Linked DNA regions of Homo sapiens: all the other regions are linked to region 2. Evidence: fine-mapped QTL for protein levels in blood plasma. A gene starts in region 2. Each other region holds a variant in brackets. All regions are shown on one strand. Distances are between the middles of the regions.

Region 1 (8,192 bases), 930 kb before region 2:
AGACATATGCACATGTATGTTTATTGCAGCACTGTTCACAATAGCAAAGACTTGGAACCAACCCAAATGCCCATCAATGATAGACTGGATAAAGAAAATGTGGCACATATACATCTTGGAATACTATGCAGCCACAAAAAGGATGAGTTCATGTCCTTTGCAGGGACATGGATGATTCTGGAAACCATCATTCTCAGCAAACTAACACAAAAACAGAAAGAACAAGAACATAAACCAAAGCAAACTAACACAAGAACAGAAAACCAAACACCAAACCAAACCCCGCATGTTCTCACTCATAAGTGGGAGTTGAACAATGAGAACACATGGACGCAGGGATGGGAACATCACACACGGGGCCCTTTTGGTGGTGCCTAGGGGAGGGAAAGTGTTAGAAGAAATACCTAATATAGATGATGGGTTGATGGGTGCAGCATACCACCATGGCATGTGTATACCTATGTAACAAACCTGCACGTTCTGCACATGTATCCCAGAACTTAAATTATAATAATAAAAATAAATAAAAAATATTTTCTCTACTTCTTTGAAAAAAAAAATGATCCAAGCTGAGAATATTACTTGTAATCAGATACAAACTGGGTATGACTGTCAGCACAGCCCAACTAAAATATATATATTTTTCCACTTTGTTAGGGGATGGAGAAGTCGAGACCAGAGATGGAAGGCCTTCTTAGTACACAACTGTTCATCTTAAGTGGCAAAATATCCAGACACAAATATCTTGTCTCAGAAACAAAAGAGAAGAGGTAGCATTTGGTGTCACAAAGATCCCTAATATGGTTTCACTCTGTGTCTGCAGCCAAATTTCATGTTGAATTGTAATTCCCATGTGTTGAAGGAGAGGCCATGTGGGAGGTGATTGAAACATAGTGATGGACTTCACTCTTGCTGTCCTTGTGATAGCGAATGAGTTCTCACAAGATCTGGTTGTTTAAACGTGTGTGGCACTTTCCCTTGCTCTCTCTCTCTCTTTCCTGCTCTGCCATGGTAAGATGTGCTTTCTTCCCCTTTGACTACCACCATGATTATAAGTTTCCTGAAGCCTCTAAGCCATTCTTTTGTACAGCCTGTGGAACCGTGAGTCAATTAAACCTATTTTCTTCATAAATTACCCAGTCTTAGATAGTTCTTTATAGCAGTGTGAGAATGGACTAATACAATACTTTTCACCTGAATAGGTCCCCAGAACTTTTCCCTCCACTCTGTTTCAGGAATTTGTGCAACGCATTAAGGCACCTCAATTCCTCCAAGAGTGGAATTGGAAGGGAGGAGCCATCTCTCCATTACCTCCATACTCACACCACCATGCAGTATGGCATTCAGAGAGCTCAGTCACTAGTCACCAACTAGTCTTCTGAGCAGCAGTTGAGTTCACAGCTCTTGGAGCAGCATGGAGAGAGGAAACACCTCCATGACAAAGGAAGCAGACCAGTCACTCCACCCCACAGAAACTCACAAATGTTGGATCTGTGGATAGGCAATACAACCCCTGAAGAACTCAAAAATACTGAGAGATAAGTTTTAAAATTTTGCAAGGGCAACACTTCCTTCAGAAGCAGACTGTATTCAAAATACAATTAGATTGGTTACACTATCACTGTCACTACGTTGTGTGATCTACTGCTTCATATTTCAAAGGACATCTTTACATGTATTATTTTATTAAAATAATCTAGAAAAATGAACATTCACCCGTTTCTCCAGTTTTACCAGTGAGTTCCAAGTGAAGTACACTAATTCAGTAAAGAAGCAGTAAAAAGTGTGGCATGAACATAATGAAATTGCCTACCTTTCTGGGTGAAGCTAAGAATTATGAGGCTTCAGAGCATTTCCCCAGAATGAGAACTAGATTCTCCTGCTTCATATGTCCCAATCAATGGCACAACTGCCCACCCTCTATCCCTGCAACTAACCAAAATCCAGATATTTTTATACCTTTGAAGGAAGGACAACATTCACAGAGATTCAGTTTCAGTGAGTACGTTATGAGGGGCTAATGGAGAACAGCTGCATTCCAAACTTATTTCTTTATGGTGAGCTAATAAAGGATAGATTGCTCACAGGGTGAAAAGAAGTGTGAAAATACATCTGAATCTTTGAAACACTGCCACAGATGACAGCAAAATAACTATGCCAATAAGATTTGAGGACATATTGCAATCTATGCCACTGTTGCCCACTCTATATGAAAACACAACACAATTACAAAAACTAAATAACATTTATTTAACATTTATTAACCTCTTATTGTGCATCAAGCTCTGTGCTAAACTTCGGGAATTGAAAACAAATAGAACACTATCCGTCTCTTCAGGAGCTCACATTTTGTTGTCTGTTGGAGACAGATAATTGAACAAACAATTATAATAGTGTGGGAAGTGCTATAATAAAACCATATGCAAGGGCTTACAGAAACACAGAGGAGTAAATCTCCAATTCTGCTCATCTTTCAGAAAACAAAAGAAGAGATTCCTCCAAAAAGGCTTGCAAAATAAAAATTAAACCAAAATCATAATTAAAGCCAATTTCAAGTGACTGTTCACTCTGATCTAGGAACATTGCTAAGCACTTGACATAGATTATCTCATTGAATCCTTATAACTCTCCCTTTGTTTGGGGTCTTATTCCTATACCCATTTCACAAGGTACATGGTGTCAGTATTAAAAGTCACCATAGAGGTTTGAAAGTTGTTAGTATTCTCATGGTACTATAGCTGTTTTTCTTTTTTTTTTTTTTAATTATCACAATCCATCTTAAATAAGAGTTCTCAACAGAATATACATTTTTTTCAGCACCACACCACACCTATTCCAAAATTGACCACATACTGGGAAGTAAAGCTCTCCTCAGCAAATGTAAAAGAACAGAAATTATAACAAACTATCTCTCAGACCACAGTGCAATCAAACTAGAACTCAAGATTAAGAATCTCACTCAAAACCGCTCAACTACATGGAAACTGAACAACCTGCTCCTGAATGACTACTGGGTACATAACGAAATGAAGGCAGAAATAAAGATGTTCTTTGAAACCAACGAGAACAAAGACACAACATACCAGAATCTCTGGGACGCATTCAAAGCAGTGTGTAGAGGGAAATTTATAGCACTAAATGCCCACAAGAGAAAGCAGGAAAGATCCAAAATTGACACCCTAACATTGCAACTAAAAGAACTAGAAAAGCAAGAGCAAACACATTCAAAAGCTAGCAGAAGGCAAGAAATAACTAAAATCAGAGCAGAACTGAAGGAAACAGAGACACAAAAAACCGTTCAAAAAATCAATGAATCCAGGAGCTGGTTTTTTGAAAGGATCAACAAAATTGATAGACCGCTAGCAAGACTAATAAAGAATAAAAGAGAGAAGAATCAAATAGACGCAATAAAAAATGATAAAGGGGATATCACCACTGATCCCACAGAAATACAAACTACCATCAGAGAATACTACAAACATCTCTACTCAAATAAACTAGAAAATCTAGAAGAAATGGATAAATTCCTCGACACATACACTTTCCCAAGACTAAACCAGGA[A/G]GAAGTTGAATCTCTGAATAGACCAATAACAGGCTCTGAAAGTGTGGCAATAATCAATAGCTTACCAACCAAAAAGAGTCCAGGACCAGATGGATTCACAGCCGAATTCTACCAGAGGTATAAGGAGGAACTGGTACCATTCCTTCTGAAACTATTCCAATCAATAGAAAAAGAGGGAATCCTCCCTAACTCATTTTATGAGGCCAGTATCATCCTGATACCAAAGCCGGGCAGAGACACAACCAAAAAAGAGAATTTTAGACCAATATCCTTGATGAACATTGTTGCAAAAATCCTCAATAAAATACTGGCAAACTGAATCCAGCAGCATATCAAAAACTTATCCACCATGATCAAGTGGGCTTCATCCCTGGGATGCAAGGCTGGCTCAATATACGCAAATCAATAAATGTAATCCAGCATATAAACAGAACCAAAGACAAAAACCACATGATTATCTCAATAGATGCAGAAAAGGTCTTTGACAAAATGCAACAACGCTTCATGCTAAAAACTCTCAATAAATTAGGTATTGATGGGACGTATTTCAAAATAATAAGAGCTATTTATGACGAACCCACAGCCAATATCATGCCGAATGGACAAAAACTGGAGGCATTCCCTTTGAAAACTGGCACAAGACAGGGATGCCCTCTCTCACCACTCCCATTCAACATAGTGTTGGAAGTTCTGGCCAGGGCAATCAGGCAGGAGAAGGAAATAAAGGGTATTCAATTAGGAAAAGAGGAAGTCAAATTGTCCCTGTTTGCAGACGACATGATTGTATATCTAGAAAACCCCATTGTCTCAGCCCAAAATCTCCTTAAGCTGATAAGCAACTTCAGCAAAGTCTCAGGATACAAAATCAATGTACAAAAATCACAAGCATTCTTATACGCCAACAACAGACAAACAGAGAGCCAAATCATGAGTGAACTCCTATTCACAATTGCTTCAAAGGGAATAAAATACCTAGGAATCCAACTTACAAGGGATGTGAAGGACCTTTTCAAGGAGAACTACAAACCACTGCTCAATGAAATAAAAGAGGATACAAACAAATGGAAGAACATTCCATGCTCATGGGTAGGAAGAATCAATATCATGAAAATGGCCATATTGCCCAAGGTAATTTATAGATTTAATGCCATCCCCATCAAGCTACCAATGACTTTCTTCACAGAATTGGAAAAAACTACTTTAAAGTTCATATGGAACCAAAAAAGAGCCTACATTGCCAAGACAATCCTAAGCCAAAAGAACAAAGCTGGAGGCATCACACTACCTGAATTCAAACTATACTACAAGGCTACAGGAACCAAAACAGCATGGTACTGGTACCAAAACAGAGATATAGACCAATGGAACAGAACACAGCCCTCAGAAATAACACAACATATCTACAACTATCTGATCTTTGACAAACCTGAGAAAAAGAAGCAATGGGGAAAGGATTCCCTATTTAATAAATGGTGCTGGGAAAACTGGCTAGCCATATGTAGAAAGCTGAAACTGGATCCCTTCCTTACACCTCATACAAAAATCAATTCAAGATGGATTAAAGACTTAAATGTTAGACCTAAAACCATAAAAACCCTAGAAGAAAACCTAGGCATTACCATTCAGGACATAGGCATGGGCAAGGACTTCATGTCTAAAACACCAAAAGCAATGGCAACAGAAGCCAATTGACAAATGGGATCTAATTAAACTAAAGAGCTTCTGCACAGCAAAAGAAATTACCATCAGAGTGAACAGGCAACCTACAAAATGGGAGAAAATTTTCGCAACTTACTCATCTGACAAAGGGCTAATATCCAGAATCTACAATGAACTCAAACAAATTTACAAGAAAAAAACAAACAACCCCATCAAAAAGTGGGTGAAGGACATGAACAGACACTTCTCAAAAGAAGACATTTATGCAGCCAAAAAACACATGAAAAAATGCTCACCATCACTGGCCATCAGAGAAATGCAAATCAAAACCACAGTGAGATACCATCTCACACCAGTTAGAATGGCAATCATTAAAAAGTCAGGAAACAACAGGTGCTGGAGAGCATGTGGAGAAATAGGAACATTTTTACACTGTTGGTGGGACTGTAAACTAGTTCAACCCTTGTGGAAGTCAGTGTGGCGATTCCTCAGGGATCTAGAACTAGAAATACCATTTGACCCAGCCATCCCATTACTGGGTATATACCCAAAGGACTATAAATCATGCTGCTATAAAGACACATGCACACGTATGTTTATTACAGCATTATTCACAATAGCAAAGACTTGGAACCAACCCAAATGTCCAACAATGATAGACTGGATTAAGAAAATGTGGCACATATACACCATGGAATACTATGCAGTCATAAAAAATGATGAGTTCATGTCCTTTGTAGGGACATGGATGAAATTGGAAATCATCATTCTCAGTAAACTATCGCAAGAACAAAAAACCAAACACCGCATATTCTCAGTCATAGGTTGGAATTGAACATTGAGATCACATGGACACAGGAAGGGGAATATCACACTCTGGGGACTGTTGTGGGGTGGGGGGAGGGGGGAGGGATAGCATTGGGAGATATACCTAATGGTAGGTGACGAGTTAGTGGGTGCAGCGCACCAGCATGGCATGTGTATACATATGTAACTAACCTGCACATTGTGCACATGTACCCTAAAACTTAAAGTATAATAATAATAATAATAATAATAACAAAAAGGAAAAAAGAGAAAAAAAGTTAAAGTTTTTTTGATATAATACTACCACTACAGTTTAAACTTCTAAAAGGAAGTGACTTATGTCTAGTTTCAAACTGATGTAATTCACATAGTAGCATCTCAATACATTTTGTTTTAAATTTAATGAAGTCATGTGAAAATGTTCCAGTGCTGTTAAGAGGCTGTTATATAATTTTAAGTCTGAGATGTTGAAGGAAGGAAGAATAAGAACTGGAATAACAAAACATGAGTATAATGTCATTAAGGTTCACTATAACATGGTCAGCAGGCACTGAAGAGAAACAGTAACGATAAAAAGAGCTTGTCCAATAAAACTTTGTCTGGTTTTCTCAGTGCTCACATTGTGCTCTGGCATCACACTTCCACTTCATGATCAGGACATGTCCTTATATCCATATTGTGCTTCCCACGTTAAAATGTACTTTATCATATCTTATTGTGCAAATAGAGTCAATCTCAGGACCTATGATTATCTCTCTAGAGTACAGAAACTATTTTTGGACTGCCTCTTTTCCTAAATTTTCAGCTCCAGCCTTGTGTTTACCCATGGTGTACTTAGATGGATATAATAATAAGCATCACTGAGTTTCAGAATCTGGAACCTCCTAATACCAGTGCTACCTATTCCTAAAAGGGGCCACTGATGATCTGGAACATCTTCTCCAGCTGCCACCACCCATGAACTATGCAAGGAAGTGAAACATAAAAGGATGGAATTGGTAGCATGACCCTGTTCTATGTTGTGTTCTCTCCAGAAGTAGAAGAAAGCAATGGCATGAAAGTCAAGAGATGGTTACCATATGTCTTACTCTTAAAATTAGTTACAGTCACAAAAGGAAAGCTAAAATAAAAAAATACGTAATTGGTATAAATGGCCACTCTCACTTTTAATAGTGTTCAGGTTTTAACTAGGAGGCCAAAGCTTTTTAGAACCTATAGATTTCTTATTTCCTACAAACTCTGTGTGTCAGTGTACAGCTAAAAATTACAGGGAAATTGCTATCGCAATCACATCAGGGAAATGTAATGGCTAAAAGCTTCACAGACGGCTTCCAGTCACGCAAAGAAGGATGTGTTAAAAATCTAAATTCCTGAGAGAAACTGCTGCCTTATCCTTGAGGGTTCTAAAAAGTACAATGAGGAATGAAAACTGACTATTGGATTTGGCAATGTGAAAACTTTGTTAAGAGTGGCAAAAACAGCCTCTGTTGAAGTAGAGAAAAACGTCTGTCTAGACTTGATTCAAGAGAGAATGAGAGCAGAGACTTGAATAAAGCATAGATGAATTTTTCATATAAAACAAAGAGAGAGAAAAGGATCAGTAGCCATATAATTAGGTTGGGAAGACAGAGGGGCTTTTTTTATCTCTTAAGGAGGGAGAAATAAAAATATGTTATGTTGATGTGAATAATCCAATAGAAAGAGGATAACTGATAATTCAGGAAAGAAAAGGGAGAATTCCTAAAATAGGAAACTAAAATAAGTTTCAGCACACTAGTAGAAAGGTTGTCTTTGTCAGGAAAGTGGAAATAGGACTCACATTAAAGATGTAAATGTAAGAATGACAGGACATAAAATCTTATAATAAAAAAGCCGAGTTTGCCAAACTCATGTGATCATGGTACACTTTTGTTGTAGTACGTTTTTCAGCCTCTCCCAGAATATGCTTGTGCCATATTCCTAATCAATGTACTATCCAGTAATTACAACCATGAAATTGTTATGAGTCATTTCTACTTCTCTCAATATGTCAGTCAAGACAATCCAAAGATCCAGTCACTACATACAACACACATACGTTGAAGACCTACATCCTTCATGAAAGTGTGGGCTAGTAATAATCTGTCAACTGACAAAGAAAATAATAAAAAGCATGCCTCCCTCA
Region 2 (8,192 bases):
TGCCCATACTGATCCACAAAAGTTTTCATTTCAGGTGATAACTCCTAAAATTATATAAAAGCAGGTAGGAGGTTTGTTAAAAAAATACCAGTTATGCTTGTGATGGTGTTAATAACTTACTGCAAAGAAAAACCAAAATTAGAACCATTTAGAAATATGCATAATGATTAACTATTCTCAAAAAAATTAAAGGCATAACTGATACACAGTATTTATTAGTTCCAAATGAAAGAGTTGTAATCATGATTATTTCTCAATTAATATGATTTATCTTCTATTATTAATTTTGAGACTATGCTATCCTTTGAAAGTGTAGTCAGAATCATTCCATTCATAACTTTTAGTGAATTTTAACATAATCATCACCATCAATATATTTTAAACAATGCTTGCTTCATTAAAGATTACCTTATATTGCTACACTATCTTGTCTTACAACATTTTTCTCATTCTAACATAATGTTTTATCTATGGAGAGTAATATATGTTTTCATTTTGAACAAGCAAAAAATGTGAATGTTAAAGATTAACTCACTTTGTAAGCAAAGATTGTTTTAAGCATAAAAGAGGCATTCATCAATTAAATAAATTTAAAAATTAAATAGATTAGAGAGCTATGAACTATAAACTAGTGATCTGAACATAGAACTGGTATTCAGGAGGTTTAATTTTTACCCTTGGGTCTCCAACATAGCCCATTTAAAATAGCCCTGTTGCATTAGCTGAAGCCTATTTAAAATAGGTCAGCCCTTACTAATGTTCTATTCTACGTCCTTGGGAAAGCAAATTAAGGTCTCGGTTTTCATCATAGCTAACAAGATGGTGGTATTATCTACCACACAAGTTTGCTTTGGGGATAGATAGGTTAATATAATTAAAGGGCTATATTGAGACTAAATATCATTATTACTAGTATTTATAAAAGCCGTTTGGAACCAATGTAGACATCTTTAGTTGAACTAAGATAATAAATAATAACAAAGCAATATAATTATATTTTAGTCTTTATAAAACTTACTATGGATAAATTACAATTTGTATTTATCTAATTTTGTTATAGAAACAATTGTAAGAAAATGAAAGTGTTCAACCATGGCAATAGTGGGAATATCAGGTCCTACAGTTTTTTTATTTTTACATACATCTTAACGTAAACAAAAACCAAAGCATCTGTCCTTAAATTTTAAAATGGTGTAATACCACTACTTTCACGAGCAGACTTGACATTTACTTTGTGAAGTTTCTGACAAGTATGTCAAAATCTATTTTTTAAACAGTGCAAAACATATAATCACCACCAATTAAAAATGTATAAAAATGAGTGCAACTACAAAGACCAAACACTATGTTTAGTGTAAAAGGATAGTTTCTGAAAATATATTGCATTGTTATATTTAATTAATGTTATATTCACCTAGTGAAAATTTTGAAATTTCATGTTATTAATACGAAAAGCCAAACAATGTTTCCATTAATGCAATGAAATCTGTTATCCTATGGCTAGAAATGCAAAAAGCCTGGTTTATAAGGGCAATTTTTATGTTCTAAAGAAAGAGAAGAAATATATACAAGTAGGTTTAATGCAATGAAGTTAGTAGTATAATGAAACATGTATCTACTATATGAAACTCTGAATCCACATCTTGATTTAGATTTTAACTACCCAAATCAAGAAAAATACTAAATTCAGAAAAATCCAGATTGTATTTACATTCCAGAAAAATGCTCAAGAATCAAGGTATTAAGCAACTTGATATAATCCTATAACTATGCTTGTTTAGTATCATTACATTATAGTCTAATAATTGGAGCTTTGAATATTCCAAAACAGAGAAAAATAATTAAATTCTAAATCTCCAACATGAAGATATTGCTTACAAAAAGGTACAAATATTAAAATCAGAGGAAGAAAAATATTTTTTTAAAGTTCATGAATATTTAAATTTCTAAGCTGAAAATAGATTTCAATATTAAAATTACTTCTGCACAAAATAAAATATAATCATTACCTGCTGGAAGCATCTTCCAAGGTTTTAATTCTAAATTTTATGGAAAGTAAGACTTTTCCAACCTGATTTTAAAATATGTATTTTTAAATGAGGAAGATAATTGCTTTTATTAGATTAGCCAAAGATATATAAAGCTATAATGACAGTATTGCATAAATTTATTTACATGGCAATATATAAGACATGGGGAGGGTGGAGAGTATATAAAACATTTTTATGCTATTTTATTCCGTTCTATTATACTTTTAGATTATATAATATTAAATCTGGGTAAAACAATCCCTAGAGCACAATCTGGTTTAAAATCAATTTGGTCAATGATTTTTGTAACTGATAGTTCTATAGTGCATTATAATACATTTAGAGCCCTCTGGGATTCTTTTGAATATGCTGTACAGAAATGTATATTACACAATTTTCAATTTAGATAGGGCAAAAAGTTCTATTATTAAATTTTATATATATCACTCAATATTAGAGGTGGTGATCTGCTATATAATATATACATCATTGGTAGTGTAAAATCTCTTTCTAAACGTAGTCAAAAAGGCCAAAGACCATTAACGTGTAACTCATCCCAATTCAACACTGCCTTCTGAAAGGCAGTGTTACATAAACCTCAATAGAGTAGTACAATTTTTAACCCATTTTCCTCTGGACAACCATCTCATCTATGTTTAAAAGCTGACTGTATTTTATATTTATGCTGACAACATATTTTCTTAACAGGTTAATTTATGCCCAAAGGGAGTCATTTATAATTAATAAGAATGGTTATTTGTTTAATTAACTAATGGCTTAAATAACGAACATAGCCATTTTCAAAACACCATCAATTGCTGCCCATCAGAGTATCACTTTGCTTTTTTTACAATACATGAAATTCTTAAAATTGTTTTACTTTTTACTTCTCTACCTTTTGGGTTTCTTGCTTTCAACAGAAATGAAGATCTTTTCTTGCTAAATTCTTTCTCACTGTTAGGTTGCAAGTTGGGCAACTTACCCTTAGTGAGGACAAGATGTTTTCTCATCTCCCCAACTACATCAACATCACAACAATAATAATTGGTGATAGAGTAAGAGATCCATAATCTGCAGATCTGTTTCTTGACCACCAAGGGGCAGAAATGCATTTCCACCCCCTTATTTCTCACACAGTAAAAGAGAATTTAAAAATTACCTAATCAAACTCAGTGGTAGAGGTGGTGATCCGCTAAAGAATCTCATGCACCCACAGTTCCCTTTTAAGACCTATTAATGCAAGTACTAGTATAGAATATATATATATTTAAAGCTCCAGTTTCAGATAGCAAGGTTTTTCCCTTTAGAAAATCTGTCTCTCTCTGTCTGTCTCCCTTTCTCCCTTCTTCCCTCCCTTCTCTGTCCCTCCCTTCTCTCTCTCTCTCTCTCCCCCTCTCTCTTTCTCAGTCTCTTTCCCCTTTCCCATTTCTCTGTATTCGAGTTGGAAAAGTGTTTTTTCTTGCCTTTCGCAGTCAATAAACGTTTACATTACCCAGAAAGCGCTTTACGCTACTGGCTTTTTGTGAAAACACAAGAATGTTTTAATTTGGGGGTTAAAAGTCTTTTTTTCTTTTTCGCAAACTTGAACCTACCAATCCAGCCTTCTTTCGCGCCTGCTGGAGCTCCTGGATCAAGTTCTGCAGCTCCTTTCCTTCCAGGTAACCACTTCCTGCAAAGACAAAGAGGCACCCAGGTGTCAGATATCTCATTCCAAGTGTCTTTCCCGTTCACTTTCCAAGACAGTTATCTTTCTGGCGACCCGAGAGGCTCTCTCTTGCCTGGACGTTGATTAACCAGCAAAGTGTACAGACGGTGAAGCGCTCCCCTCCTGGGGTATCAAACTTTAGATCCACTGAGGACAAAGGAGGATGGTTGGGGTGCTAAGCGCAGCCACAGAAACTTTGGGGGGGCAGCATTCCCCAATCCCTGCTCTCTCTCTCCTACCATTACCGTTCCTGGAAAGACAAAAGTTTAAGGTTTTGGGATTACGGTGGAAACAATATAAACTTTCAGGTTGACAGTTTGGCGGCCAGTCGGGGAGATAAGAAGATAAGATTAGGCAGAAGGGGGAAGAAGTAAAGAATAGAAAGGAGGGATAATGGGATCAGGAGGCTCAGAAAAGGGCAAAGAATGGGAAGGGGCATGGAAACGGGTCTTGAAACAGTTAAAAAGAGAAGATAATCACCGTCAGCGTCGAAATGGAGCCAGATCTCGAAAAACTGTGAGGCTGTGATGAGGGATGACTGCAGGTGGGATTCTGCCATTGTACAGCGGGGTGTGTGTCTGGGTGTGTGAATATGCGTGTGTCTGTGTCCGCGCGAGGGGGAGTGAGCAAAAGCTCAGCGTGTGCGCGAGTCAGGGCTGCGGAGGGAGACCTGGGCGCGGGCGCTGCCGGGCGCTGTCCTCGGTGCTGCTCAGCTCAGCGTTCCTCCAGAGTTCTCTCCCTACACCCCGCACCCAGTTCTCAGTATTTATCCCGACGGCCCCAAGCCGGGCCACGCCTCCTCCAGCCTCCCATTCCTCACTCCCCGCCTCTTGCTCTCACCAGCCTTCTTCCCCTCCCTTCCAGTTTTCTGCTCTGTTCCCAGGAAAGCTAGCTGGAGCGAGAGTTTGGGCTTGTTGGAAGCAGCAGGTGGTGGGAGATCCTTTGCTCAGAGATTGGATGCTGAAAACAGAGGCTCATTTCCCCCTACATCCTCCTAGTCCAGGAAGAATCTTATTCCTGAATATTATAGTAAAACTCTTGTTATCTAGAGAGGTTTAAATGTTCAGATAGAAGGGGAAAGCTGATGACGGGTAAAATCACATAAAAGATTATTATATTCTTGTGTGATTTCTCCAAGACTTTTCAGTATTTGTTTGAAAAAAAAAAAGCATGTGAAACCTTGGCACGCATTAGAATAATTTGATTAATGTATACAATGAGTTGATTGCTATCAATAATCACTCTATTTTGTGCCATCATGTCAATGTTTCTTAAGATGGTTTCTATGAACTAACCTTGCCAACACGAAAAAAGCTAGATTATGGATTTCTTTTCAGCATGAAGTAGAATTATAATTGGAAAGTAATACAGTTAAATTATAAAACCTTAAAATCTTAGATAAGGAAGTCATCTTACAGATACTAGAGTTTACTGCCTTTCAGTTTAGAAGGAGTGAGTAAACTAAAACAAAGAGAAAGGAAGGATCTGACCAGGTTCATAAGTAGGTACGTTAGTGCTACCACCACAGCCCCATTCAGTCGCCTTAACACACACGTCTCCTTCTTTCTGTTTCAAGCAACCCCTACTGGAGAATTTTTCAGAAATTGGAAGTCACCATCAGAGTTGGAAAAGCTATCTAACTAAATGTATGCTATGTTATGTATATATATATATATATATATATATATGTAATATATATGTATGTATACACACATATGTATATATGTTCTGTACTATATATACATATGTATATGTGTTATGTATTTTAATATAATTAATTATATACTTGGATTATTTCTTATTTACATAAGTACTTCTGGAGTATTTGGCTTTGAGTCTTTTGGACCTTGAAGTCCACTAAAAATGTATCCCAAAAGTCTAATTACAATTGTACTAAAACAAAATGAAGGAACAAGAGAAAATCTACACATAGCCAATATAAGCTTAAAGTGAATTAAAATGAATTTACCGGCCGGGCGCGGTGGCTCACGCCTGTAATCCCAGCACTTTGGAAGGCCGAGGCAGGCAGATCACAAGGTCACGAGATCGAGACCATCCTGGCCAACATGGTGAAATCCCGTCTCTACTAAAAATACAAAAATTAGCTGGGCATGGGGGTGGGCACCTGTAATCTGAACTACTTGGGAGGCTGAGGCAGGAGAATGGCTTGAACCTGGGAGGCGGAGGTTGCAGTGAGCCAAGATCACGCCACTGCACTCCAGCCTGGTGACAGAGCAAGACTCTGTCTCCAAAAAAAAAAAGAGAGAGAGAGAATTTACCAAGCTCTATATTCTTAACCTTGTGTAATTGAGTTTGGGACCCCTCAAATTTATGTTTTTGAGATTAGGGCTCTATCCATTATTATATTTGTGGAGTTTTTTTGTAAGTATCCTTTTCAGAGACCCATCAATTTGAAGCTAGCCTATTTCAATAATCTTCTTAATGGAATCCTCACTTCCATAGTACTTTCCAGTTCATACATTATTTTTACTTATGATACCTCATCTGATTCTCACTGATGGTCCTATTGGTCCTATGTTAGTGGCCAGGGTCGCTGTGTGAAAAATATAGTGTGTGAACTTGGAGACCAGCGCTAGAGAATAAACTTTGAAGAGAGAGTGAGAATGCAGTGACTAAGGAATGACTTGAAGAATCACTCTGACCCTTGCTAGTCTTGACAGAGCTAACAATGTCTAGACTTTGGATACAGTTCTGAGACAAAGAAAAATGCTAGAAAAAGTATGTAGGAATATGGACTGAACAAACTGATGAAAAAAGAGCAACATTTCTACTATTTTAAAAAGTAATTAAAATTAATTTTCTTCCTAAAAAGAGACCACACACTGTGGTAAAAATTCCTAAACATTTTCACCATAATCTGTTTGTTGGTTTTTTAGAATTTTATCTTAACTTCCAAAAGTATTACAAGACAATTTGTAAAAGTTAAAAATATTTATATGAAAGTAATCTTTTTTCTTATTCACTTTCCTGAAGCTATGGCAACTTCCAAATTTCCATTTAGAAATGTATAGGTGCTGTGACTTGAGAGAGAGTGAGAAATAAATGGGAGACTTCCTTGGAACTATGTCCAAACAGCAAGTTTGGACATAGTTTTTTTTGTGTGTTCTTTTTATGTTTATATGAAGTGGCTTTTGAGGGAACTAATGTAGATTATGGAGCTCTAAAGCAGTTTAGTGCTGCCCCTACCATGAGGTAATCAACACTAAAAGAGCCATGCTTATGGAAATATACAAATCCATATCTAAAGGTTTTTTTTTTGTTGTTGTTATCTGGTTTTACAGAAAAGGGACTATGTTTTGTATATTATCCTTCAACTTTCTATTATTAATTCAAGGGCATCCCTCCAGTATTAACATCAACATCTAATGTATACTTTTTACAGTTTAATATTTTATTAATTAACTATAATTACAGATATACGGATCTATTTCTAGTAGTACACTGTGACACACAATGCTGCAATAAACACCTTTATACATTTATATTAGCTATACATGTTTCTGAATACAACAGGGCAGAGTCCCAAAAGCAGTATTTTTAGTTAATAGAATGCATATTTTAGATTTTAATACACATTTCCAAATTATTTGCTTCAATTTGTAGCAATTTATACTCAAATGTCCAAAGTCTGAGGATGATTTATCCTCATTAACTCTGAATGTTATTGCTTTTTAAACTTTATACTAATGTAATAAGTAAAAAGTAGATTGTTATTCTTCCTTTAATTTTCATTCAATATTAATTTTTTAAAATTTACCTTTTGGTTTTCTAAGGTGAACTTGTTATTCTTCAGATATTTTTTCTAATGGCAGAAATGTAATTTCATAAAAAGTGTTTTCCCTTAAAATTGTTATTGGTCCTGGACTGTCACTTCAAATCAATATCTCTTTTCAGATGTATATTTGGGCCATTTCTAGATTAAATTATACTTTATGGTAGTAGTAAAGAACTGTATAATCCAGATCTACAGATTTGAGGTAACTTGAGGAATATTTCTTCCCTCGTTCATTAACTAGGTAGGAAGGACCTTGCGCTCAGGAATCTTTTAATTTCTAGGATTCTGGGGAGACTACAAATGCTTTCAATAATGAGAAGATTTTTCCATAAGATTGGAGTTTCTAAAAACAGCATTGCAAACAAAGCATTTTTATGACTTGCTTTATAGGCTTCATTACACAACATCAAGGTGAATGGGTTCATAATCCAATATTGTTACAAAAGTAGAAGCAATTTATGTTCCAAAAAAAAATCTCTGGGGTAATTAAACTGCATTTCCCATTTCATGTTACTGAATTACCACATCTCCATTCATATTCAGGCTACCACAGTTCCAATTCACTATGCAAATTGGAAGACTTAGAACTTCCCAGGTTTAATGAATGCTTTCTTAGCCTCCACTCAGGAAAGAAAACCCTCCAAAATATTTTACTATGGGT
Region 3 (8,192 bases), 30 kb after region 2:
GAGTTTTCCATATACATTGACAACAAATCCACATCCAGTTTCAATATACATTGACAACTAATCCACATCCACTTTCAAATAACACCATAGTGCTTTATAGATAGTGTGAGTACTTTATAGTAACAAAATAATCCTAATTCCTCCATTTGATTCCCAGATTCATTGTAGTCATTCAGTTCACATATATTAGCATGCATAAGTATATATATAAAAAGTGTACATAATTAGACACATTGTTGCTATTGTTATTTTGAACAAACATTTGTTAGACTAAGAAAATAACATGTTTATTTTACATTACTTATTCCTTCCTCAATGCTCTTCTATTCTATATGTAGATCTGAGTTTCTGACATATCATTTTCCTTCCCTCTGAAGAACTTAACATTTTTTGCAAGGCAGATGTACTGGCAACAAATTTCCTCATTTTTGGTTGTCTGAGAAAGTCTTCTTTTATCCTTCACTTTTAAAGGATAATTTCAAAGGATACAAAATTCTAGGCTGGTGTTTTTTCTCTCAACACTTTAAATATTTCACTCAAATTTTTCCATGCTTGCACAGTGTCTGAGGAAAAGCTGAATACAAGTTTTCTTTTTGTTCCTTTTACAGGTAAGGTGCTTTTTTCCTGTGGCTTCTTTCAGGGTTTTTTTCTTTATCTTTGATTTTCTGTAATTTGAAAATGATTTACCTAGGTGTAGTTTGTTTTTTGGTTTGTTTGCTTGTTTTTTGGCATTTAGCCTGCCTAGTGTTCTCTGATCTTCCTGAATCTGTGGTTTTATGTCTGACATTAATTTGGAGGAAATTCTCAAACATTATTGTTTCAAATATTTCTTATGTTCTTTTCTCTGTTTCTTCTTCTGTATTCCCATTATGAGTACGTTACATCTTTTATTATCGTCCCATAGTCCTGGGATAGTCTGGTTTTTTTTCACTTTTTTTCTCTTTGCTTTTCAATTTTAAAAGTTTCTGTTCATATATCCTCAAACTCAGAGATTCTTTCCTTAGTTGTATCTATTTGATAAGCCTGCCAAAGGCATACTTTAATTCTGTCACAGTGTTTTTGATCTATAGCATTTCTTTTTGTTTCTTCTTAGGAGTTCTGTTTCTCTACTTACATTGTCCATCAGTTTTTGCAAGCCGTCTATCCGTTAGAACTTTTACATATTCATTGATGTTGTTTTAGATTACTGGTCTGATAATTCCAATATCCCAGTCATGTCTGGCTTTGGTACTTGCTCTGTCTCTTTGAATTGTGTTTTTTACCTTTTGGTGTGCCCTATAATTTTTTTATTTTTGATAGTTGGACATCATGTACTGGGTAGAAAAACTGCTATAAATAGGCCTTTAATAATGTGGTGGCAAGGTGTGTGGGGAAGGGAAGCATTCTATAATTCCATGAATATGTCTCAGTCTTTTAGTGAGCCTGTGCTTCTGGCCTGTGAACTTCACAAATGTTTCTCAGGTTTTTTCCTCCTCCCTTAGGTTGGATAGGATGGTTAGAGTGGGCTGGAGGAGTTGGGTGTTTCTCTTCCTTCACATAGAAGGCTAGAGTGTGTTGGAGTTAGAGATTTGTTTTTCCCCAGGTCAGCTAGGCTCTGATAATACCCCAGCAAGTTAGTGTCTGGTTAACTAGTTTCCCCTGAGGGCAGGCTTTGTTAAGAAGAACAGAGTGCTCTGGCTTATTTCAGAATGGTTCAATTTCCCCCACCCCGGCGAAGAGCAAGAGGGGATTTTTCTGTGATATTTACTTAGAAATCTGGGAACTCTTAGAGGTGAATCTGACAATATTGTGTGTGTGTGTGTGTGTGTGTGTGTGTGTTGTAGGGGGTGCCCATTGATGGTGTCTCTCTGGAGTTTTTAACCCTCAGACTTGTCTGCACTGAGTCTCCAGCAACTTGTCAATTACAGTTCAGGTTTTCCTGCCTTTCCACAGTTTCCACTTGTCATTCTCTGCTCCAGAAACTTGTGACTCCCTCTTTTAGCCTGTCTGTTTCTCCAGTTTTGGGATCAGCAGTTTAATCTAGTGACCTTACTGCTCTTACATACACAAAAAGAGTTGTTTTTTCAATCTATTTAACTTTTTACTTGTTTGGATGGAGTGGTCGTTTCCAAGCTCCTTACACGCAAAACCAGAAAACCCATCATTAGAATTTTGGAAGAGAGGAAACTTTGTTTTTACTTTGAAATTTCTTCAGTAGCTATAATCAAGTTCCTGGGGCTTTAACAACCCCCAGTACGTAATTCTCAGTCTACTTGCTATTCAGTCAAGTTTTAAGTCAAGTTTCCCAGTCGCTCCATCCAATCAGATTCTCCTGTATAAAAAAATTTAAGGAGCCAGTTTATGCTGTCGTATTTTATGAATGTACTTTTGGTTTACATGTTAGTGGGCATTTAACTCTGGCTTCTTTTTACTTTTTCCAATGAACCCTCTAAGAAAAAAGAGTTTATAGCTGTGTCAATAAAAGAAAAAAAATGCTGACGTCTTACTGTCACTTATGCTAACAGACAATTCGTCTGTTTTCATGATTAAAAATTTTTTTACCAGGGATGACAGTCTGTAAATGTGGGCATGAAGCAGGCCGGTATGCCAACTAACTGTTCTTGTACATGAGAAAGCTAGGATATCAGAATATAAAAAATATTTTGTATATTTTTTTAGTTTCAGTTTTCTTTAAAATAAATTTTTTAGTCATCCAGCCCAAAATGTCATCTTTTTTTTTGTTTTGTTTAGGGAAAGAAAAATAGTAGATTCCAAATGCATTCATTTCTGGTTTAACTAGTGTTAGGGAGGATGTGGGTTGAAGTTGAATATGTAGAAAGGGAGATAGAACAGCATACATGGGTAAAATTCATAACAACATCAATAGTGGACTTACATCTCTTTTTGAGAGTTTGGGGAGTTTAAACAATTCAGCATTTTTTAATGTTATCCTATTATACATTAAAAGATAACTTTTATCCCAGATTAAGCACTGCAGGGTAATCGAAAAAGCACAGGCTTTGCAGTTAGGAAAACCTACTTAAAATCTTGATTTTGCTACTTGCTAATTGTGTGACCTTGGTCAAGAGTAGTTCTAAAATCTGAAAAATGGTGGTTTCTACCTCATTTTGTTGTAAGAATTAAAAAAGAACCATATGTAAAGTGCTTGGTGGGATGCTAGCCAGTTCAAGTAGCTGGTGTTTAATGCAGTTAT[A/G]ATAAGCATCTATTAAGGTTAACATATTAAAGTGCTCAATTTAGACTCAAGATTCTTATCTTAAGATGCATCTAATCCTGATACATTATAATTGACTAGGGCAACCATTCCCATGCCCTTTATGTTAGAAAAATTCCATGGTGATTTTACTGGTGCATGATTATTGGATGGTTATTGTTAATTTCCATTCATGGGTCATAATTCATTAACCACAGGTGCCATTTTGAATGACCTTTTGACTTCCACATCGCAAACAATGCCAGCATGAAGCAAAGTGAGGTCTGTTGATCATAAGCGATAAGTACATTTTTGAGGTACTTTGTGATTGCCAAAGCTGAGTGCAGTCTCAGTGACTCTTAGGTTATCAAAACCCCTTTCAATTAGCTATGGCACAAAATCAATAAATCTCCTGGGAAAAATGTCTTCAAGGGAGATGAAAAAGGAGTATTTTAAGGTCTCAACAAAAATGAGAGTAAAATATGCTAATCAGTAACAAATAAAAAAAAAGAGAGAAAGAAACACTGAAAATCCATCTGACACAAAACAAATTTTATTCTAAGATCTTTGTGTTTGCATTTTCAGGAAACAAAACATTAAGAATGTTCCCTGGCCATTAGGGAGCATTGGAAAGTTGGATTCTTCTCTATTTTGTTTCTGGGAATAATGAAGTTTTGGTATACGCAGAGCTGAATCAGATTGAAAGATTTAATTCCTCTAGGAAAGTGTTGTTTTTCATTGTTTTTTCTTTTTTTCCTTTTTAACATCATGTATGTGCCCAGGGAGAGTCTTGATGAGCACTAAACAAATATCTTGTTAGTTAGATGGAAAGCAATTAGAATGTTCTTATATGCACAGCACTCAGCACCGTGGTGTTTGGTGTCATGGAAATGCAAATTAACTAAAGCACCAATAATTATAATGTTAATGATGATAAGCATTGTTTAAAAATTATTTGAAGATAAGCAGAGTTATCTATAAGTAGATAAACATGCACTAAGTATATATGTAGATATGTGAGCATATATAGAGCCATTTTTCACTTTATGAAATATATTTACGTTAATGAAGTTGAATTTCAACTGACTTTCCAAAAGCAAATCATATTTTCTAACCCATTCCACTTACATAATTGGAAATGTTTTTCATGGGTGATAATGAAACTGAACAGCAAATACTGGTCTGGAATTTGTTAATAAAGTTTTTATTCAGCAACAATTTTTCAGCAATCACTATGTGCCCTCCACTGTATATAAGTTGGGGATGCAATACTAAATCAGGCGCTCCCTGTTTTCAAGGGGTTTTTTCTTTAGCTAGAAACACAGAGAAGTAAACAAGGAATTTCAACACCATGTGATATGTGTTATAGAAAGATACTATAGAGCCCTATGGGAGAACACAGAGGGTACCTAATCCAGTCAACCGTGGCAGGAAAAGTTTCCTGGATGTGATGGTATCTAAGCACAAGAAGGAATTATGTAGGCAAAAGTAGAGTCGAAGGTAGATTTGGGGGTTAGTGCTGATGGTGGATGTAGTGATGGTGGTGGTGGTAAAGGGAACAACATGTACAAAAGCACAGAGCTTAGAGGGAGCATAAGGTCCTTCTGGGCCTGCATCTTTTAAGTATTGCTGAGAGAATTTAATGTGGGGGAATGGACGGAGTTTGATGGTGAGATATGAGGTTGGAGAGGTAGGCAGGGGCCAAAATAAGAATAAATCTATAGCCTGTGGAAGAAGAATTGCCATTCAGTGGTATGCTAGTAAACTGCTCTTGGAATAAAATGCTCTGTTTTGTAGTACTTGCCCATTTCTGTGGTGTAAATACTCCCACCATGGCTGTATGCTACCGATAATTGAACAACTGGCTTGCAAAATGTTTTTTTCTGGATATTTAACAAGTGGCTCTTGAGAGCCAGTTCAAGCTGGTTCCATTCATCCCAGAACTCACTGCTAGAGACTAGATCAGCATAGATCTGATATTGGGATGGAGACTACAGATAAAAAGACAAGCAGATGTACTGGTTATTGTAACCCAGCAATACTTTTTATAACCTTTCCTTTTGTAGGCTGCAACTGAACCTTACCTCCTCAACTCCAATGCATGCTTTTATACTCACAAAATCTGCAGCTCATTTTACTATGGGATACTTTCAGTCTTGTGTGAGCAGAACTTAGAATCTTAGTATTATTATAGAAGAGATCTTTGAAATTTTCTAGCACAACTCTTTAAGAGTTTAGGAAACGAAGCTCATGTTACAACTAATATTTGCAGAACCAGTTATATATCCTCTATATCCTCTATGACGTTTCCAGCCTTCCCCACCTCAGCCATTAGCCATCCTCAGAATCTCCCTAACCCTACAATTTCTTTACACTATCAGTCACTTAATTTTAGTTCTTTGCTCCCCATCTAAATATTTATGATTCAACTAAGCTGCAAGATCATACTTTGCTGGTTTCAGACTTGGAGTTCCCTTATTTTAACATTGTAGATGTTCTTAACTGTTTTGTCTTTTGGTTGTTAAAAGCTTAAGTATGATATGTGTTGGCGTAAATTACTTTGGGTTTATCTCGTTTGTGATTTTGTTTAGCTTTTTAAATACGTGGGTTTATATCTTTTGCCAAATTTGAGAAGTTTTCAACTATAATATTGTTTCGTTCATTATTTTTGCAGGCCTACCTTTTTTCTCCTCTGCTTCTGGGACTTCAATGGCACAACTGTTAAATCTTTTGTTATAGTACCATTTGAAACCCTGTTTAACTTTTTTTCAGTCTATTTTCTCTCCATTCCTTAATTTGGATAATTTTAATTATTCTGTTTTCAAGTTCACCAATACTTTCTTCTGTCCTCTCCATTCTGATATTATGGCTGTTGCTGAGATTTTTTGATTTTTTTTTTGTCTTATGAGATTTCACTTGGTTCTATTTTATACATTATATTTTATACTTCCTATTTCTTTGCCAAGAACTATTTCTTTGCATTTTTGTGATGGCTGCTTTAAAAATCTTTGTTAGATAACTTTACCCTTTGTGTCACCTCTCTGTTGGTGTTGTTGATAGTATTTTCTCATTCAAGTTGTGATTTTCCTGATTCTTGGTATGATGGGAGATTTTTTATTGTATCCTGCATATTTTTGGCATGATGTAGTGACACTGTGGATTTGATTTAAATCTTATGATGTAGTAGGTCTTTTCTGACACTGCAGCTCTGGGCAAACATGGCTGCAGCCTCATTACTATCTCTGGAAGGTAGAAGTGCAAGTCTCCCCTCAGCCTCCACTGAAACCCTAGAGTAGGGGTAGAGTGTCTCTCTGTTGGTGGATATAGGTGGGAATCAAACCTCCTTGCTGGCTGCATTGACACCACTCTGGTTGGGAGGGAAGGGGAGGCTGTTTACTGCCCACATGTGTCTTCCACTGACATCATGTGGGTGGGAGTTACTGTCAGGTGGGATGAAAGTCCTGCTCCCCAACTCCAACTTCTCTGATTAACCTCCCACCCCCCAGCGGGAGGGGTGCCTTGTTATAGCTGGATAAGAGTGGAAGTCTATGTTCCTTTCTTGGCTTTTGCTGGCAGGTCTGGGGTGTGCCATAGTTTTCTCTCTTTGGTTGGTTGTAGTAAGTCTTCTGTTTTGTTAGGCTGCCATTGTTTTTGATCCTTTGGCTACAAAAAGTTGGCTGTTCTTGTTTTTTTTTTTAACCTGTTAACTGGCTTTCTGGGTTGTTGGCTTCTTTAGCACTTAAAGTGTTCTAAAAAATCTGTATGCCTTTTCACCTTTTATTAAAGAGTTATCTTTAAGGCCAATGGATAAAACATTTAGAGATTTTAATTTCAAAATTTGAGAAAAAGAGTGAAAGTCAGAACTGTCCAGAAATGGAATCTGGACAGTGGGATTCGTAGTAAGTGGAATATTCTGTGTCATTAGCTGTTGTAGACGAAATTAAAAAATCAGAAAAGGGATTGCACTAACATTTAAAAGGTCTCTTTCAACTCTAAATATCTGATATTTGGAAACCAGCAGCTTCAGAAAGTCTTCCTTAGTGAAGAGAGTTGTGGCATTGAGGCATCACAGGTTGAAGATGTATTCCATGATCCTTCCATTATGCAGTGTTTTCTTATTTACACAGTAAAGATTAAGAATAGCAGAGGGAGGATGTGGGGTTGTAAAGGAGTGTGAAGTAGCTTATAAGAGCCCAGGAGGCTGGGCTGTGTTTTCACGATGTTTATATTGTGTTTGGCCTGCTAAAAACTTCATGATCAGTTATAAAAATGTTTCTGATATTTAGCCCACATAATTTTTCTGTATCCTAGACAGGAAAAAAGAAAGCATTGGCCTTTATATAAAATAAATGTGTGTGTGAATTTATAACAAAGTATTTGGAATGATTTACGAACATTTGGATCTCAATTAATGAAATATAAATTTTTGCCTACATGTATGTAATACAATATTCCATTATGCACTTGTCTGTATCTGAGAAGTCATAATTATCCTTTGAGAATATATTTATTTTAGCCACATGTTGGAACTAGGGAGATCCATAGGTAATAGCATTCTTAAATACTGGAGATTCTGGATTGTGTAATTCCAAATGCTCTTTATTATGGAAATAATATAATGTGATTCAAAAGCAAATACATTATATGATGGGCATCTCAATAAAGTGTTATATGGAAAAAACCCCAAAAACTAAGGTACACACCCTTAAAAGGTTAACTAGTTCATCTCTTGATTCCTGTGAACTTGAAAAAGGTCTGTATTGCCATAGGGGATGATAAGGAAATTAGTCAGTGTAATTAGAATTTGCTAATGCAAATCTGTTGTTATTCAGCTGTGGAATTACCCCCAATGAGACTTATTTGCCATGTCATCAGCTATGCATATTTTCAGCTAGCCACATTGGGGGCTCCAGCAACACTAAAGACCAATTTGGCATTTGTTCTCAAGTGTCATTTTCATTAACATTGGTGGGTGTAAAGCATAAACAGTGAAGGAAAAATT

Direction of the effects. Positions count from the first base shown, and alleles are read on the strand shown. Strength reflects both the effect of a copy and how common the allele is.
For the plasma level of the protein whose gene starts at base 4,476 in region 2, allele A in region 1 goes with a lower level than allele G (weak association).
As copies of A replace G in region 3, the plasma level of the protein whose gene starts at base 4,476 in region 2 goes down (moderate association).

The links. A credible set is the group of variants that fine-mapping cannot tell apart. PIP is the posterior inclusion probability: the model's chance that the variant is causal. Protein levels are from antibody-based Olink assays in UK Biobank. Linkage for the fine-mapping came from a reference panel and not from the study's own genotypes, which makes the PIPs less certain.
Region 1: its variant is the best candidate, but not a certain one, in a credible set for the plasma level of the CALB1 protein (UK Biobank, PIP 0.52).
Region 3: its variant is the best candidate, but not a certain one, in a credible set for the plasma level of the CALB1 protein (UK Biobank, PIP 0.72).

The regions. Positions count from the first base shown.
Region 1 is chr8:89,152,483-89,160,674 of GRCh38, forward strand. No RefSeq gene overlaps it. Among named protein-coding and RNA genes, the nearest start is that of PARAIL, 600 kb to the right of the region's middle. The variant A/G (reference allele first, on the strand shown) is at 3,563.
Region 2 is chr8:90,078,404-90,086,595 of GRCh38, forward strand. CALB1 (calbindin 1) reads right to left here and starts at 4,476. Exons shown (of 11, transcript NM_004929.4): 1 at 4,216-4,476; 2 at 3,623-3,699; 3 at 1-44. The coding sequence starts at 4,294.
Region 3 is chr8:90,108,162-90,116,353 of GRCh38, forward strand. No RefSeq gene overlaps it. Among named protein-coding and RNA genes, the nearest start is that of CALB1, 29 kb to the left of the region's middle. The variant A/G (reference allele first, on the strand shown) is at 3,194.